3 separate regions of the Homo sapiens genome follow, and regions 1 and 3 are each linked to region 2. The links come from fine-mapping of genetic effects on gene expression. A gene starts in region 2. Each other region holds a variant in brackets. All regions are shown on one strand. Distances are between the middles of the regions. Region 1 overlaps AMIGO1 (adhesion molecule with Ig like domain 1). Region 2 holds the start of SYPL2 (synaptophysin like 2). Region 3 overlaps SORT1 (sortilin 1).

Evidence for each region. PIP is the estimated chance that this variant, and not a neighbour inherited with it, causes the effect.
Region 1: its variant is the best candidate, but not a certain one, in a credible set for the expression of SYPL2 in tibial nerve (GTEx, PIP 0.74).
Region 3: its variant is the best candidate, but not a certain one, in a credible set for the expression of SYPL2 in thyroid (GTEx, PIP 0.86).

What each region holds. Positions count from the first base shown.
Region 1 is chr1:109,503,614-109,508,930 of GRCh38, reverse strand. It overlaps AMIGO1 (adhesion molecule with Ig like domain 1), which reads left to right. Exons shown (of 2, transcript NM_020703.4): 2 at 1-4,753. The coding sequence starts at 19. The coding sequence ends at 1,500. Among named protein-coding and RNA genes, the nearest start is that of AMIGO1, 3.5 kb to the left of the region's middle. The variant C/G (reference allele first, on the strand shown) is at 2,350.
Region 2 is chr1:109,464,036-109,470,323 of GRCh38, reverse strand. It overlaps SYPL2 (synaptophysin like 2), which reads right to left and starts at 3,778. Exons shown (of 6, transcript NM_001040709.2): 1 at 3,427-3,778; 2 at 3,191-3,265. The coding sequence starts at 3,480. RefSeq lists enhancers at 3,346-3,845, 3,846-4,347.
Region 3 is chr1:109,365,869-109,372,356 of GRCh38, reverse strand. SORT1 (sortilin 1) reads left to right here. Exons shown (of 20, transcript NM_002959.7): 2 at 2,768-2,827; 3 at 4,876-4,949. Among named protein-coding and RNA genes, the nearest start is that of SORT1, 29 kb to the left of the region's middle. The variant T/C (reference allele first, on the strand shown) is at 2,928.

The sequences.
Region 1 (5,317 bases), 39 kb before region 2:
GCCCACTCCAGTGACACTATGCACCCCCACCGTGACCCGAGAGGCCTCTGGCTCCTGCTGCCGTCCTTGTCCCTGCTGCTTTTTGAGGTGGCCAGAGCTGGCCGAGCCGTGGTTAGCTGTCCTGCCGCCTGCTTGTGCGCCAGCAACATCCTCAGCTGCTCCAAGCAGCAGCTGCCCAATGTGCCCCATTCCTTGCCCAGTTACACAGCACTACTGGACCTCAGTCACAACAACCTGAGCCGCCTGCGGGCCGAGTGGACCCCCACGCGCCTGACCCAACTGCACTCCCTGCTGCTGAGCCACAACCACCTGAACTTCATCTCCTCTGAGGCCTTTTCCCCGGTACCCAACCTGCGCTACCTGGACCTCTCCTCCAACCAGCTGCGTACACTGGATGAGTTCCTGTTCAGTGACCTGCAAGTACTGGAGGTGCTGCTGCTCTACAATAACCACATCATGGCGGTGGACCGGTGCGCCTTCGATGACATGGCCCAGCTGCAGAAACTCTACTTGAGCCAGAACCAGATCTCTCGCTTCCCTCTGGAACTGGTCAAGGAAGGAGCCAAGCTACCCAAACTAACGCTCCTGGATCTCTCTTCTAACAAGCTGAAGAACTTGCCATTGCCTGACCTGCAGAAGCTGCCGGCCTGGATCAAGAATGGGCTGTACCTACATAACAACCCCCTGAACTGCGACTGTGAGCTCTACCAGCTGTTTTCACACTGGCAGTATCGGCAGCTGAGCTCCGTGATGGACTTTCAAGAGGATCTGTACTGCATGAACTCCAAGAAGCTGCACAATGTCTTCAACCTGAGTTTCCTCAACTGTGGCGAGTACAAGGAGCGTGCCTGGGAGGCCCACCTGGGTGACACCTTGATCATCAAGTGTGACACCAAGCAGCAAGGGATGACCAAGGTGTGGGTGACACCAAGTAATGAACGGGTGCTAGATGAGGTGACCAATGGCACAGTGAGTGTGTCTAAGGATGGCAGTCTTCTTTTCCAGCAGGTGCAGGTCGAGGACGGTGGTGTGTATACCTGCTATGCCATGGGAGAGACTTTCAATGAGACACTGTCTGTGGAATTGAAAGTGCACAATTTCACCTTGCACGGACACCATGACACCCTCAACACAGCCTATACCACCCTAGTGGGCTGTATCCTTAGTGTGGTCCTGGTCCTCATATACCTATACCTCACCCCTTGCCGCTGCTGGTGCCGGGGTGTAGAGAAGCCTTCCAGCCATCAAGGAGACAGCCTCAGCTCTTCCATGCTTAGTACCACACCCAACCATGATCCTATGGCTGGTGGGGACAAAGATGATGGTTTTGACCGGCGGGTGGCTTTCCTGGAACCTGCTGGACCTGGGCAGGGTCAAAACGGCAAGCTCAAGCCAGGCAACACCCTGCCAGTGCCTGAGGCCACAGGCAAGGGCCAACGGAGGATGTCGGATCCAGAATCAGTCAGCTCGGTCTTCTCTGATACGCCCATTGTGGTGTGAGCAGGATGGGTTGGTGGGGAGATTCTGCCCCAGGAGAGGTAATGCACCCCTGAAGGATATGAGGGGATGGAAGAGAGGGCTGGCTGCCCAAGGGAATGGATTCCTCCTGACCTCAAGGGAATTGGTCCCAGGTACAACAGAGAGCAAGACCCCAAACAGGGCGTGGCTGCCACGATTTTCAAATGGGGGTATATTAATCCTCAGGCAAATGCTACACCCGTACCCAAAGCCCTGCCAATTCTCAGTGTGGTAGAGGAAGAGAAGCATGTCTGAGTTGGATGGGAATGAGGAAGGAGTGAGGGGAAGAACAGATTCCCTAAACTTTCATGAGGTCATCCCTAGCTCCTTAAGAGAAAAACATTTAGAAAAAAAAATTTTTTCTATCTCTGCCCACCCACACCTGTGATGTTGTGTGTGTTGGGGGAGCTTCCACAGGAGCCACACTGGGGAAAAGCTGTAGTATCTTCTTTGTTTAGCAAGTCAAACTTCACAGCTGGGGAAGTTGAAAACCTTTGGAAAATGAGTCAGGAAAAGGCTGAGACCTCAATCGGTAACAATTCCCCAAAGCTGTTGTAAGACTTTGCATTAAAGCCTTCCTTTTTCCTGATGTGCCCTGGGTGGATGGATCTTTGCAGGAGCCTGGCCTGCTGCCTTTTAGTTACAACAGCAATGTGGGATGTGGTATCTGTGCCTTGTCCTGGGACCAATGGCACAGAGGGTTATAGCATGAACTGAAGGGTCCATGTCACAGCATAGGTGCCAGCACGAAACTTGTAGATGGGGGGTGAATTCCAGATAGGCTAATTCCCTGGTTGGTGAAACCCTTGGTTAGTATTTGATTCCCAGCAT[C/G]TGTGTGTCAGGCCAGAGTGGGGGCTGCTGAAGGCAGAGCTTTTATGGATGCCTGCCACAGACGTGGTACATGGGCCCACTTCACGATAGAAGGATGAAGGTAAATCAGCCTCTATTATGTAGCATCCAGCTGGACCTAGCTGATTCTCAATGTATGCCATCTCTTCATCCAGTCTCCTTATCAAGCTCAGGTGGGATTCTGAATTTTCCCTAATATGCTGCTCTGTAAAGGGAGGAGTCCAAGAAAGCCTGGCCCCAGCTGGCTTAGAGTAGGCTTGGCGATAGTGAAAATCCAGTATATATCTCCTCTGTGTGGACAAGGTTGCCTTGCTCCTCTCAGAGATACCACCTCTGCTGCAAAGTCAAAGCATGGGGTTTTGACATCAGAAGGGTTGGAATTGGGTGGTCTCTACCCCAGAATGGCAATTTGGAGTGCAGCTTCAAGTTCTGCCCTCTCCACAGATTCCAGGCAATCCTGAAGCAGAGATAATCAGTAGTACTAAACTTTCAGAAGGGGAGTTCTGCCACCCCATTCCTCCATCGAGAGGTCTTTGCAGTTGTGGTTGTGAGGCCAGAGGAACTTAAGAAGAATGAGCTCAACATTCCATTCCATCCAAGGTTGCAGAATACTTTGAGTATGGAGATGACCGATCCCTTTAACCTTTCCCTTTGACTACACTGCATGCCCTGTGAGTGGCTGCTCTGAGCTTTGGCGGGGGATGAGCAGGGTGAAGGTGAAAATGTTCTCTGATGTTGGTTTTTCTTAGGGTCTCTTCTCTCCCACGTTTCTAGTCCATTGGAAGTTCTCCAGATCCTCTAGATTTCTGACCTCTTTTTACATTCTAAGAGGTGTCATTTACCTGTGGGTGAGGGGCTTGGAGGGCCTGACTATTAAGCTTCCTATTATGATTGGGGAAGGGGACTCAACATCTTCCCCTTGTCTGGTCCTGGGAACTCAAGACTGCTGTCCATCCTTTATTAGTAACCTAGTTTTGTTGAGAGAGAGGTGCAGCATTTCCCTCAAGTACCTGCATGCTCATAGGTATGCATGCTTATAGGTATGCATGCACACCAGCACCTTGACTTCCACCAGGACAGTGAATCTGTAGTCCCCATTAATGATACTCTCAGAATGGTCTCCACCAATGTGCACAACTTCATGCACACAATTGTATTCCTCTTTAGGAGAGACAGTGACCATGCCAGGCTCTTCAAATACACACTCCTGTATTTTCATTTCTGAACTCCCTGAAGCTTCACCCACATCTCCATGGCACTGAATCACTTTTCTGCCCAGGCTGGAGTTAGAAGAACCATGGGTTGAAGGCCTTGGGAGAAGAGGTGGTAAGGAGCTACCTGGTTCTTTGGACTCCTCAGAAACCTCCCGTGAAGACTATATATATGAGCAATATATGAGCAATTAAGATAGAACTAGGTCATTGAAGGACTCAGAAGGAAACTGGCAAGGGGCTAAGTAGCTGTGAGCTGCTCTTCCTGTTAACTGTCCTCAGGAGAGAAAAGTTGTCTTGATTTATTCCAGAGACTCCTGAGAATTTTGTTACTGGAGCTATAGGAACTAGGACTCCCTCCTCAGACTCATCAGGAAATCTGGGAAAATCTCATCTCCATGCTGCAGTCTCCCCGCTTGGCACCATCTAGGGCTCTGAAGATCTTTAAAGTGAGCGTTAAATGAAGCAGGCCTTCTGGGGCATCGTGATGGAGCTCCTGAGGACTGGGAGGGCCGTTTTCTTCATAATTCCTACCCAGTTTAGGGAATGAGAAAAGGCCCTGTGGCTCTTAAGTCTCCTGACTATATCCACTAGTTTGGCCTTGAGTTTGAGACACCTGGTAGATGTACCTGGCTGCCCTACCAAGAGATTTGATTTGTTTCTTCCCGTGGTTTCAGGTGATAGAACCCAAAGGTAGCTTTTTAATTGGAGAATTGAATAATCAGCATATGTAAGCGCACTAGAACCCTGTGTTGAAAACTGCCAGGTGTGGGTATAAGAAAAGGCCGAGAGATCACCACCTCCTCTTACCCTACCCCACACCCATAAACCAGACATGTCTCCCAGGAAGCAGGTGTCCCTGGAGACAGAGGATGACAGGGCTCTACAATCTGTGTAATTATTATTATTATTATTATTTTGTATTTATGGGGCCCAAGAAAGGGGCCAGGAGAGGGTACACCCCAGCTGGGGAGAGCAAAGCAGATGGATCCAGTTTTCTGTGTGTTCTTACCTCTGTACTTCCTCGTAGCTCTGCTGACAAAGCAAGCAGGCCTCCCGTGTCCAAGACCCCATTCCTCCCACTTGTGTACACCTAGGCTGGCAAATCTTGGAGCCTCTGGGCTCTGAAAACTAGACAATGATCATTAAACCTGGCTTGAGTCTCTGTTCTGGCACAATCTGACTGGTTTATTTTTTCAGCCTGTGGGTGGGGTTCACTGTACCTCAGAAGGGTGTGTCCTATCTAGGAAGAAAATCTTTAAGTGCTATTGTACGGACATGGGTGAAATACACATCTAGGCATTAAGATGGACCGGGGTCAGCAAACATTTTCCCTAACGAGCCAGATAGTAAATATTTTAGGCTCTGCAGACCACACAGTCTCTGTTACAACTCAGCTGTGCTGCTATAGCTTGAGTGTAGCCACAGACAGGACAAAAATGAATGACTGTGGCTGTGGTCCAAAAAAGATTTGACTTATGGACATTGAAATTTGAATTTCATATTTTAACATGCCTTTTGAGTTTTTCCAAGCATTAAAAAATATATAAACTAGGCCGGGCGCGGTGGCTCACGCCTGTAATCCCAGCACTTTGGGAGGCCGAGACAGGTGGATCACAAGGTCAGGAGATCGAGACCATCTTGGCTAACACGGTGAAACCCCGTCTCCACTAAAAATACAAAAAATTAGCCGGGTGTGGTGGTGGGCGCCTGTAGTCCCAGCTACGCAGGAGGCTGAG
Region 2 (6,288 bases):
TCCCACGCTTATCTCATTGTTTTTTGTTTTGTTTAGGCGAGGTAACAGGCTCATGCCTGTAATCTCAGCACTTTTGGAGGCTGAGGTGGGAATATCACCTGAGCCCAGGAACTCAAAGCCAGCTGGGGCAGCATAGCAAGACCCGATTTTTACAAAAATTTTTTACAACTTAGCTAGGCATGGTGGCATGTGCCTTTGGTCCCAGATACTTGAAAGGCTGAGGTGGGAGGATTGCCTGAGCTTGGAAATTTAGGCTGCAGTGAGATGTGTTCGTACCACTGCACTCCAGCCTCAGCGATAGAGCCAGTCTCTATCTTAGAGCCTGTCTGAAAAAAAAAAAAGATTTGATATTTACTCACTCAAGGTTCCAGAGCTAGAAAGCAAGAAAGCAGAGGGGACTCAATTTAAACCGAAGCCTATCTGACCTCAAAAATCTGTCTCTATCTTCCTTTTTCTTTTGTTTTATTTTCCTTTTTTTTTTTTTTTTTTTTTTTTTGAGACAAGGTCTAGTTCTGTCACTCAGGCTGGAGTGCGCAGCTCATTGCAGCCTCGACCTCCTGGGCTCAATGATCCTCCAGCCTCAGCCTCCCAAGGAGCTGGGACCACAAGCATGTGTCATCACACCCAACTAATTTTATTTTTTAATAGAGACGCGACCTCCCCTTATTGCCCAGGCTTGTGTCAAACTCCTGGGCTCAAGCAATCCTCCCACCTCAGCCTCCCAAAGTGTGTCTTTTTCTTAAAAAGAAAATTTTTTTTAAGATACTTCTTTTCTTTTCTTTTTTATCTTGAACTCCTATGATTTGATGTCCTTTTCTTTTTTAAAAAAAAACTAGTTCTCCAATAATTGGTCTATGTCCAGGTTATTTTTGCTAGCTTAGTATAGACTTAGTGAGACTCCAGAATTGGAATTGAGGTGAGATTAGTTGATTTCTCAATTAAAAAAAAAAAAACTCTAAGATAAGCTCCTGACAAATAAAAGAATAACATTACTTTCTTTTCACAAAGATTCCAGTAAAATCTTTGCTTTTTGGTAATAATGACAACAAAAGTTCTCAATTACCATTACAATAACTGCAAGCTTTGTGTTTTCTTTTTTCCTTCTCCAATCAGGAGCATTTGATCCCTCCAAACAGGAAATGAGTGAAAAACTCAAATGACATTTCCACTGTCATTTCTGGTGCTAATGCCTGTTTACTTTTTATGTTACCTCATCTGCAGAGCTTCAAAGCAAGTGAAACTGGCGCCCTGAATTCAGGCTACCTGGGATGGCAATAAAAGCAAAGCACGTTTCTTTGTGATGCTACCCTGTGAATGAAATCTGAATTCAGAGTCTAGCCCAGGGCCCAGGTTTTAGCATTCTGAGAGAAAAGGGTCTCTGTTTTGCACAACCCCCTTTCTAAGTACTTGAAGATCATAAAAGTCTATCAGATCTTAATTCCTAGGTCATTAGTGCTGACCCCAAGACTGCATCATTTCCCTGGGCATTGCTTTGTACAGCCTTTACAGAAATGTTGTGGGTATTTGGAGTGCTGCGTGGAGGGAAGGATGGCAGGATTGAAGAAGGAAGCTTTTCAGAATCCCTCCAAGGGAGAGGAGTCCATGGTCTAATAACCTCATTGTTTCCCTTATCCTTTGACAGTCTGTCTCAAATTCTGTTGGATCCATTTGTCTAATTTAATGGTAAAATTGCTTATAATGGCTCTTCCAGTTCTGGATGCCAGTCACTCAGAGCCTTAATATCATTTTTATATGGCTCCCTCTGGCACTTGAGTGGTGGATCAGAACAGGGAAGGGGCCAAAGGCAAAAGAGCTCAATCAGCAATTGGTCTAACCACTCTTGAGGCAGTAAGAAAGGTGGAGAGTCCCCACCAGGTCCCAGAGTTTGCACTTGGGAGCTCCCAGGCTGGCCCGATAATCCCAAATGCACTTTTGCCCCTGGGTTCCAGATTTGATTATTCTCATCCAAACCATGATTTAAGAACTGGTGTCACAGTGCTAATTCTTGTCTCCAAAGCCCTGTAGAACTCAATCCTCCTCAGTATTAATGGTAACTTATTCCCTAGCTGAATTCTGTACTGAGAGCACATTAATTAAGTTATTCACACACCATTTGGTATGTGGATTGTCTAATTTAAAATCTCTTCTGCAATAGTGCACTAAATGCCCCCTACAAGTCTTTATGATTTGAGAAATTGACTGCACCTGTCCACATTCCTAATTTATACCCAGGAGGCCTTAGGCACTGGCCTAGTGAAGCAAGATAGTATTTCCACTAGACTGTAACAGGGGAAACTGAGGACCTGAGCAAGTGACTTTTTCAAGGTCACAAAGTAAGTCTAACCTAGGGCCATATTCTGGCACACCAAACTATTTAGAGCATAAGGAGACCCTAGGAAGGTTCTGATCAACATCTAACTAGTGTTGGAAATTGAAGTCCAGAGAAATGAATTGCCCAAGGTGACATAGCTGGAAAAGGCCAGTCTAGGTCTGGATCCCAGGGCCCCAGCTTCTCAGATCAGTGTTCCATTTTATTCTACATGCCACATTTTAGCCATGCCGTGATTTTTATTCTTATTTTTTTCTTTTATTTAATCATAGAACCACAAGCTCCGTTCATTCATTCATCCACTCCCTCACTCATTTACAGGAACTCGGATTACTCCAGTGACCTCAAAAGGGAACGGCGAGCCGAGAGCCTGTCCCCTGAGCCCAGTACTTGCAGGATCATCCAGGCCCTGGTGGGTTTGGGGGCAGGACGGTTTCCATCGCCTGCTTCCTTCCCTCCTTTGCCCTCTGCGGCTTCCCTCTTGGTGAAGAGCGGACCTCGTCCCCGTCGTCCTTCTCCCCCCTCCCGTCACCAAGGAGTGGTATGTGCAGGATCAGAGTTCTGGAAAGGTTACACCCGGGTCCTCTCGCCCGGGTGAAATGTGAGCGCCCTGGGCAAAGGCTCCTTGCACATAGAAGGACCGAATCCGGGACTCCGCATGCCTCGCTCTTCACCCTCCTGCCACTAAGTCCGGAGAAGCAGCCCCAGCCCGCCCCTCCCCCGCCCACCTGTCGCCGCCCCCCACCCTTCCGCCGTGGCCCGGCCGCAGCACCTCCCCAGCCCCCACCCTGGCTCCATTGCTTCAGGTCAGCGTCACAGCCCAGGCTCCCGAAATAGCCCGGGGCCGGGGCAGCGACTCACCCACTGGAGAACTTTGATGAAGCCCAGCGGCTCCTCCAGCCGCCGCCAGCGCAGCCCCACGAGTAGGCGGTCCACCTGCGGAGACACAGCCGGCCGGGGGGTCAGGGCGGTGGGGAACCCTGGGAAGGCGCTGGTCCCCTTGCCCCACTCACACGCGGTCCAGGGGTGGGATAAGTGTGCAGCCCGACATCTAGGTGGAGAGGGGCGGGTGAGAGTCCTGGGCGCGCAGGGACTACCTGCTGGCGCGGCGACTTGTCCGCCGTGCGGCCGGCGCTCTCGGTCGAGGACATGCTGGCGCGGCGAGCGCTGGGCGCGGCGTGGTGGCTTGGCTCTCTGGCCGGGAGGCGGCGGACACGGCGGGGGAGCGGGGAGCTGCAGGTCCGGGGCAGAGCAGGCGAGCGGGGCCGGAGCGCGAGCGGCCGTCGGTGGGCCGGAGTCCAGTCTGGCTGGCTGGCTGGCTGGGACGCGGGGGCGCTGCTGTTCGTGCTCTCAGAGGCTGCGGCCGCCGCGGTGCCCCGCCGGCAGCAGAAAGCCCCCGACTCGGATTCAAACTTCTGTCAAACTCGCAGCGAACTTGGCCGCCGGGTCACGTGGCGTGCGCTCCCGAACCCTCCTCCCGCCCCCTCTGCTCCCTTTCTCCGCTCGCCGGGCACCTTAAAGGGACCAGAGGCCTCCGTGGTTAGTTCCGCCGCGGGGCGGGGGGGACTCCGGGTCCTCCTCGCCGAAGCCTCCGGGACCGGTCCCCACCGAGACACCGCGGCCGTCGGAAACCCTAGCCAGGCGCACCTGGACGCACAGGCTTCAGGTTTATCCTTCCCTATTTTCCTGGATTGCAAACTGCCCAGCGCCGGTTTTTCTCCTCTTCCATACCAGAATATCCAGAACGTAAAAGATTCTCAAAAGGCACGATCAGGGCTGTGAAACAAGGTTCTAAGCCTCACGATTAACATACCGCCAGTACCGACAAAAGGGCGATAGAATATAAGCTGCTGATTTTTTATCCTGTCTAGCTAGGTATTGTTTTGATTTTTTTTTAAAACAACAAAAGACATTTGTATGTTAGTGATTTAAAAGTTATTGGCCAGGCTTGGTGGCTCACGCCTGCAATCCCAGCACTTTGGGAGGCCGAGGCCAGAAGATCACGAGGTCAGGAGTTCGAGACCAGTCTGGCCAACATAGTGAAACCCCGTCTCTACTAAAAATACAAAAAATTAGCCGGGTGTGGTGATGTGCGCCTGTAATCCCAGCTACTCAGGAGGCTGAGGCAGGAGAATTGCTTGAACCCGGGAGGTGGAAGTTGCAGTGAGCCGAGATCGCGCCATTGCACTCCAGCCCTGGCGACAGTCCAAGACTCTGTCTCCAAAAAAAAAGTTATTAATCTTTAACAAGTAGAAACTTAATCTCCTTTAAAATGGTCATTACCATTTAAATGAGAGTGAAAAAAGGTCTTTGAGGAATGAGGCGCAAAGAATATATTGAAACGTACTGAAAAGTTGACGTCTGGCTAGGCGCGGTGGCTCAAGCCTGTAATCCCAGCACTTTGGGAGGCGGAGGCGGGTGTATCACTTGAAGCCAGGAGTTCGAGACCAGCCTGGCCAACATGGTGAAACCCTGTCTCTATTAAAAATACAAAAATTAGCAGGGCGTGGTGGCACGTGCCTGTACTCCTAGCTACTCCGAAGGGTAAGGCACGAGAATTACTTGAACCCGGGAGGCGGAGGTTGCAGTGAGCCGAGATTGCACCACTGCACTCCAGCCTGGACAACAGAGCAAGACTGTGTCAAAAAAAAGAAAAAAAGAAAAAGAAAAAAGGCAGACAGAAGTGGGGAGAGAGAGAGAGGAAAAAAAAAGAAAGAAAAAGAACGGGAAGGGAAGGGAAGAAGGGAAGGGAAGGGACTGGTTGGGTTGAAGTCGTTGCATTTTTTTAACTGTAACTTGGTCTCTAACTTTTGAAAAGCATTTGGCAGGGGTGAGCAGTTGAGAATATTCCACACTTGGTTTACGAGAGCATAAATATAAGTAGTAAAAGGTTAAGTGATTTGTCCAAGGACAAATTCCTGTGCACTGGCTTGTAAATATGTATCCGTCTCATCCAAGTCATTCCTGCAGGTCCGCCCCCCCAACCGCTCCCCCCAGCACATCAGAATGAATGCCTTTTGAACAAACATTTGGCTATTATCTATACAAGTCGCTTCCCTATTGAGTAAGTGCCTTCCCAGAGCCTTGGGATTTAGAGAGAGACGTGAGGAAGGCAGCTCGGGCTGGATCAGGCCACATGGACTTGAAGGAAACTTCTCCAGTGGATTTCCATGCAAATCTAGACTAAGCAAGGAACAGCTTAGCCCAGTCCCCAGTCCACAGTTTAAAAATTGTTCTGCCGTCTTAGGTTCCTGTTCTATGGAATAGGGATAATAATTTATGTTCCACTCACTTCACGAAGCTGTCATAAAAATTAAATAGTGTGATATATGTGAATGCCACACTACACAAACACAAAAACATACACATTACCAATGTCTTCAACAATATACATACAGAATACAACACAATCAAAAAAGAATCAGAATAACACAACAAAAATCCACTTACACACCAACCAGCCTTGTTAATCTTTAACTCTTTTTTGTCTCAAATCCATTATTTTCTTTAAATCCATTCTTTAAAAAAGAAAAAAATGCATAAAATTGAAAACCTGTATATCACCTCATGTCACTCCCTCCCTCCTTCCTCCCCAGAAATATCCATTATCCAATTCTGAATTTGTTTTTTTATCAGTCTCATGCATGGTTTACTACTTTTTCTATGTATATAACTATAGGAGCAATACCTAGAAACCCATCAGATGTAGTATTGTTTTTCAAATTGCTTTAAACTTTATCTAAATGGTATCATGCTTTAGGTAACCTTCTTCAACTCACTTTTTTACTTAATGTTGTGTTTGTGAGAGTCATCTAGCCTGATGCCTGTAGCTTTAGTTCATTCCTTTTAGCTATATAGAATTCTATTACATACATACGCATACTGCAGTCTATTTATTCTCATATTGATGGGCATTTAGGTTGTTTCCAAAGATTCTCTCTTACAAACAGCGCTGCACT
Region 3 (6,488 bases), 98 kb after region 2:
TGTATGGGCTTGATTCCTTTACCAGATGGACCTCAGGTCTAGTGGGGAGGACAGGCAAGGTTCTTGTGGCTACAATTAAAAGTGCTGTAATACATATTTTGAAAGATCTAAGATGCCACTGCAGTGTAGAATGACATGTACGTTGTCTTAAATATTAGAAATGATTCTGGATTAGGATTGATGGCTTTGTGCTGACTTGTGAATTCTGTCTCCTAACCATGACCAGGTTGTCTGCCCTTTCCTGGACATCCGTATTTTTTTCTCCCATTGAAGTGGCAGGATTGAATCTGTACTCTTGGGTCCCTAGCTCTCCTGGATTTATCTCCTTTCCATATGACCTTTTCTTTCTGCTTAACCTTTGGGCCTGCTGTAACATCTCATTTCATTTTTCTTTTTTAACTTTCACCAGTATAAGAATGTTAGAGACTGAAATATTAAAAAATTAATTACATTTGCTATAGGTAGATGAGTTTTTCAGTGAGTTTGCCCATTTTCAAAAGCAAATCTTCATTGGTTATTTGGAGTGGGTGGGAGGGACAGCTTAAGGGCAGTAGAAAACCACAGTTTTGCTAGTAAATCTGGCCTACATTTCCAAAGGAACTCTTTGGATGATGAGTGAGGTCCATTACCATTTCAGTTGTTTCAGTGAAGCTGAGAGTTGCCGGTGACACGTGATAATCCTCCTCATTCTGTAGTTGAGCAATAGGAAAATGTGGGTAATGCCAGTCTGCATTGACTGGGTCGGCTGTGTAGAGCATTGCCTGAAAAGTAAAAGTTGCAGTCCTGATTGGCTCAAGACTGATATCTTACAGCCTGATGAAGACAACCACGAATTCCAGTGCCATAACTGATGGACTTTTTCTTTTCTCTTAGTTATGACAAGGACCTTCCTTGGAAAGATAACCTGTGTTTAGATGACTGTGATCTTAGCCCTTGTGATCTGCCTGGTGCTTGTGGTAGCTCTGGATGTTCCTGTTTTTCCTGAAGGACCTCATTGATGTCATTTCAGACACTATCCTCACTCAAGAGAATGTGAGGTTTTGCTATGTGTGAAATATCATATAAGACACACTGCTATGTCAGTTTTTAAGCCTCTGGTTTCAGAAGCTCTGGCAGCCCTACTTTTTCTCAGATGCCTGGCAAGCCTGCATGTCTGAATAGCCCTTCTTTCCTGCAGAGGCTGTGAGAAGCTCTGCCGAGCATTTGAGAGTTAACCATTATTTACGGAGCAAGACCTGCGTGAGGCACTGATTGTACTAACTTACAAAAATTGTGTAAGAGATTCTTTTGACATCAAAGGTACTTACGGTCCAGAGGGGAAATCACATACGTGAATTCGGAAGCCCATTCAAGACTGCAAGAGAAAATTCGAAGATAAACAAAACAGTTCATGTTTTGAGTTCTGTTTCTTTAGATTTCTATGTGGGATTGGTGGCTTGAGTGACCAAGTAGCTGGCATCCCAACCATTTATAGACATGTTCTATTTTGAGGTTGAGTTTGTGGTTTGGGGAGGATGTGTAATCATTTTCAACAAATGCTTACTGAGTGTGCAAAGTATTCCTGTGGAAGGCACAGGGAGTACCAAGAAGTATAAAGTTACATTCCCCAGCTTCCAAGGAGCTTCTCATATCTGGGAGGGCAAGGCATGTTTAAGATTTTAAAATCTTAGTAAGATTATAAGTCTTAAGAAAAAAGCATAATCATCCACATTTATTAGAAATATATACTGAACTATTAAACTGTCTAAGAAATGGGGCTTGGGTGGTGAGCATGTGGCCTGGAAAAGAGAAGGATCTTCACTCTTTGCTATATAGACTCTATATAGTATGTAATTTCTATATGGTTTGAAATTTTTGCCAAGTGCAGTTATTACCTCTTTGGAATTTTTATTTTTTTTATCAGTTACAAAAATTATAGAGAACAGACGATTGTATTAATACATATAATATTAACCTTGAATATCTCTATGTGGTAGGATTATGAGTGACTTATCTTTATTATGCGTTCTTATAATTGTCTACATCTTCTTTAATGAATATATATTATTGTATAAGTAGAGAAAGGAAGTATTTGAAAAACAAAACCCAAAACCACCTACAATGATTATTATAACTATATTTTAACATGCTTACTATATTTTGGATATAATATACCAGCTTTCCCTTTTTTACCTCCTTACTCTCACTGCAACTCTAGTAAGGTTGTTTTATTATTATCATTATTACTATTGTTATTAAATAAAAAGGTGAAACAAAGGCATTTGCTTCTTGCTTCTGCCCGTTGTCATTTTTGAGTGAGCTAGACTAGAAGTAAAAGGAATCCAGTTACGAACTTTTCAGCTATACTGTAAAGGATGCCCAGAAAAATTTAAATTATGTTGATTTGGTTACAATTACGCCTGCCAGTGTGGGCTATGATCTTTTGTTTTAAAGCATCCTAAAAATACTTTGCTATACCTTTATATTTAGTTCTGTTGGAGAAAGCAATTAGATTGTCCCATCTCCCATCTCCCCATCTGGTGCAGTAAAGAAAACTCATCTGCTTGGCTTACTTTGTGTTAGAGAGAATTTAAATTTCCAAGTTATTTGTGATTCACATTAAGTAGTTAAATCCCATCCCTCCCAAATTTTGTACTGGGAATCCATACCCACTTTGTAATTATGAACTTAATTACTCTGAACAGTAATAAAGTTCAGATATTTAAAGAAGCCAAAGATTGAAGGAGAGTGGCTGTCATTTCTAAATTAATTTTTTTTCCCCTTATAGCATGTGTTTGATGATCTCAGAGGCTCAGTATCCTTGTCCTGGGTTGGAGATAGCACTGGGGTAAGTCATATTTTGAGTCTGTTATTTCAGCCCAGCAAGAAGATGATAACAGATTTGGGGAAGGGTTAAGCACCTAATATCATTTCTTCCTGAAACTGTC[T/C]TTAGCCTCAATCACAGAAAACACATGTTTGCAAGACAGACTTTCAGGAAGTTGTAGTTGTGTTGGTTTTGCTTTAGAATTGGGAACATCTTTTTTGCGGGGGGGTGGGGACGGAGTTTCGCTCTTGTTGCCCAAGTTGGAGTGCGATGGCATGATCTCAGCTCACTGCAACCTCCACCTCCCGGGTTCAAGCGATTCTCCTGCCTCAGCCTCCCAAGGAGCTGGGATTACAGGCACCCACCACCATGCACAGCTGATTTTTTGTATTTTTAGTGAAGATGAGGTTTCACCATGTTGGCCAGGCTGGTCTTGAACGCCTGACCTCAGGTGATCCACGCGCCTCAGCCTCCCAAAAGTGCTGGGATTACAGGCATGAGCCACTGCGCCTGGCCGGGAACATCTTCTGACCACCTTCTTCCACGGTGGGAAGATGGACACCTTTTCAGTCCTTGGTGGCTGCTTAGCATCAAGATGAGCAAGAAGAAAGATGAAAGTGCTCTGTACTGAGAAGGGAAGCGCACAATGCTTGGGGAAACCCCTATATAGAAACAGAAAATGTCCATTAAAAACATCCTGGCACTTTTCCTCCAAATTGTATTGTTCCTGTGTCCTTTCCTACAGGTGTGTTGAGGGACTGTGGTGCCCATGGGCTCATGGTTGTTCATCTGTTGGTCCCTGCCCCTGCCACAAAGGAGGTACTGCCAGGATTGGGGGAATGGAAGGAGGATCAGTCAGCTCCTTATCCCTCCTGATATACAGCTGGGCTCCCACTAGGAGGACACGCTGAGGATACATTGGCCCCTGGTCTTAAATCAGGACTTGTTGCCTGGCTGTCTTATTATCCTGCTTGAACAAGAGCAGGGGCAACATCTCCTGCCCCCTGGTATTCCATAATGCATGTGTCATAGCATTGAGGCACATGATAGTTATATTAGAAGCCTAAAGAAATAAAATCTTGGTGCTGAAAAGCAAATTGTAAATTTCTTATTTTGATTAATTTTTAAACTTTCAGTAGAATTTCTTTAAGCATAGTTCAGTTTTTTCTAAAATTTGAGTTGTACCCTAATTTCCATGATTTACCCATTTATCTTAGATAGTTGGTATCTCCAAGAATTTTTTTTTTTTTTTTTTTTTTTGAGACAGAGTCTTGCTCTGTCACCCAGGCTGGAGAGCAGTGGTGCAATCTTGGCTCACAGCAACGTCCACCTCCCAGGTTCAAGCAATTCTCATGCCTCAGCCTCCCAAGAAGCTGGGACTACAGGCAAGCACCACCACGCCCGGCTAATTTTTGTATTTTAAGTAGAGATGGGGTTTCACCATGTTAGCCAGGCTAGTCTCGAACTTCTGACCTCAAGTGATCCGTCCGCCTCAGCCTCCCAAAGTGCTGTGATTACAGGCGTGAGCCACCGTGCCCAGCCATCTCCAAGATTTCTCATATGGCTTTCTGAGACTCCCTAGACTCTTATAGTAATCCATCCAGAATCATTTCCTCATGCATAGTTTTTGGTAGATAAGGTACTGAAAAAATGAATTTCATGAAGAACCAACGGCAAGGAGAAGAAAAAGACAGACATACATGACACAGTGATCTCTGTGAGAACACCCACGCTATTCTAGACTCTGTAAGGAGAAAAGGGAAGAGGGTTCTTGCCTGAGAGTATCTTACAATAATTTGGATACAAAATAGTTAAAGCCTTCTTTTATTTTAATGTGTATTTGAGTAGTCAGCCTCACTGCTTCAATGGAGGCAATGGGGATCATCCCAACAAAATGAGCTGAGGACTTTCTCATCATTCTCAGCCCTAGTAACTAGATCCTTCTAGACTTTGGGGAGTACTACAAAGTAGGGATATCAAAAGTCTTTTAGGTGTTGGCTTAATCTCGAACACATATCAGCATGTGATTGGAATATCTTTTTTATTTACGGAATGCTTTTTTCTCTCTCCAGGTCATTCTAGTCTTGACTACCTTCCATGTACCACTGGTAATTATGACTTTTGGACAGTCCAAGCTATATCGAAGGTGAGATCAATAACACGCGTTGGAGCATTTCACTAAGTAACATTGAGAATATAGATTCTCCCTTTTCTAGACATGATGGCACGTAACAGTTGATGTAAAAGATCTTCTAGCCATCCTAAGTTTTCACCAGACTGTCACACTCAGCACATGTTTTTGTTGTTGTTGTTGTTGTTGTTTTTTGAGACAGGGTCTCACTCTTGTCACCCAGGCTGGAGTGCAGTGGCGTCATCTTGGCTCACTGCAGCCTCCACCTCCCAGGCTCAAGCCATCCTCCCACTTCAGCCTCCCAGGTAGCTGGGACTGCAGGCACACGCTACCATGCCCAGCTAATTTTTTGTATTTTTTGTAGAGACAGGGTTTCCCCATGTTGCCTAGGCTTGTATTGAGCTCCTGGGTTCGAATGATCCACCTGCCTCCAAAAGTGCTGGGATTATAGGCGGGAGCCACTGCACCCGGCCCTTAGCACACTTTTTAACGTCTACTCTTTTTTTTTTTTTGAGCAGGGTCTAGCTCTGTCACTCAGGCTGGAGAGCAGTGGCGCAAACACAGCTCATTGCAACCTCTCCCTCCCAGGCTCAAGCCATCCACCATCTTCCCACCTCAGCCTCCCAAGTGGCTGGCATTACAGGCACGTACCTCCATGCCTGGGTAATTTTTGTATTTTGGATAGACAGGGTTTCACCATGTTGCCCAGTCTGGTATCGAGCGCCTGGGCTCAAGCTGTCTTCCCACCTCAGCCTCCCAAAGTGCTAGGATTACAGGTGTGAGCCACCATGCCTGGCCTTAGCATCTAATTAGCAACTGAAAGAAGTATGAAAAGGGACCTGGTTCCAAGGAGGTTGGTTTGACCTGACTCAGGGGCAGAACAATAAAGGAAGATGAAGAAAGAGTGTATAGTGCTGTGTGTTTGTGTTCATTTATATGGATATTTATTTGTGGGAAGGTAGTATGGGGTTTAAAAAGTCTTTCTATTTAGTGTGAGTACAAAATGGTTTTTTATATTCCTGAAATGAAAATCTTCATTGTACTTTCCCAGCAAATATTTATACAGCATTTTGAGGCCTAAGCAGATTATTTTTAGGTAAGAAGGAGGCTCTCAGGTCGGACCTACCAAAGTGCTTTGTAGTGTTCACACTGGCGATGATGGTGGTAACATGTGTTCTGGAACCACAACCTATACTGTGACATTGGTGAAGTTTTAGAGTTGTCTTCTCAAAGGTATGACTTGGTTAAAAAGTAGGTTCCGTTCCTTAGCAGTAAGATTCAAGACCAACTAACTCCTAGAGATTGCTGAATGATTGTGTCTTCTCAATCATTTATGTCTGTCTCATTTTCCCCTAGAGACCTAAAGAAGTAATGACATACCAGCAGATGATATAGAAACTACCCTAGGGTCAGGGTATCTCCCAGGAGTAATGGTACTTTCTCAAGGTTCTTTATTTGACTGCTGTTCTTGGCCCAAGTGGGAGTGAACCCATGTTCAAGCTCTGAAATGGATTAGCCTAACCTCTCTTCCCCGTGAGGTATGAACTTTGACTA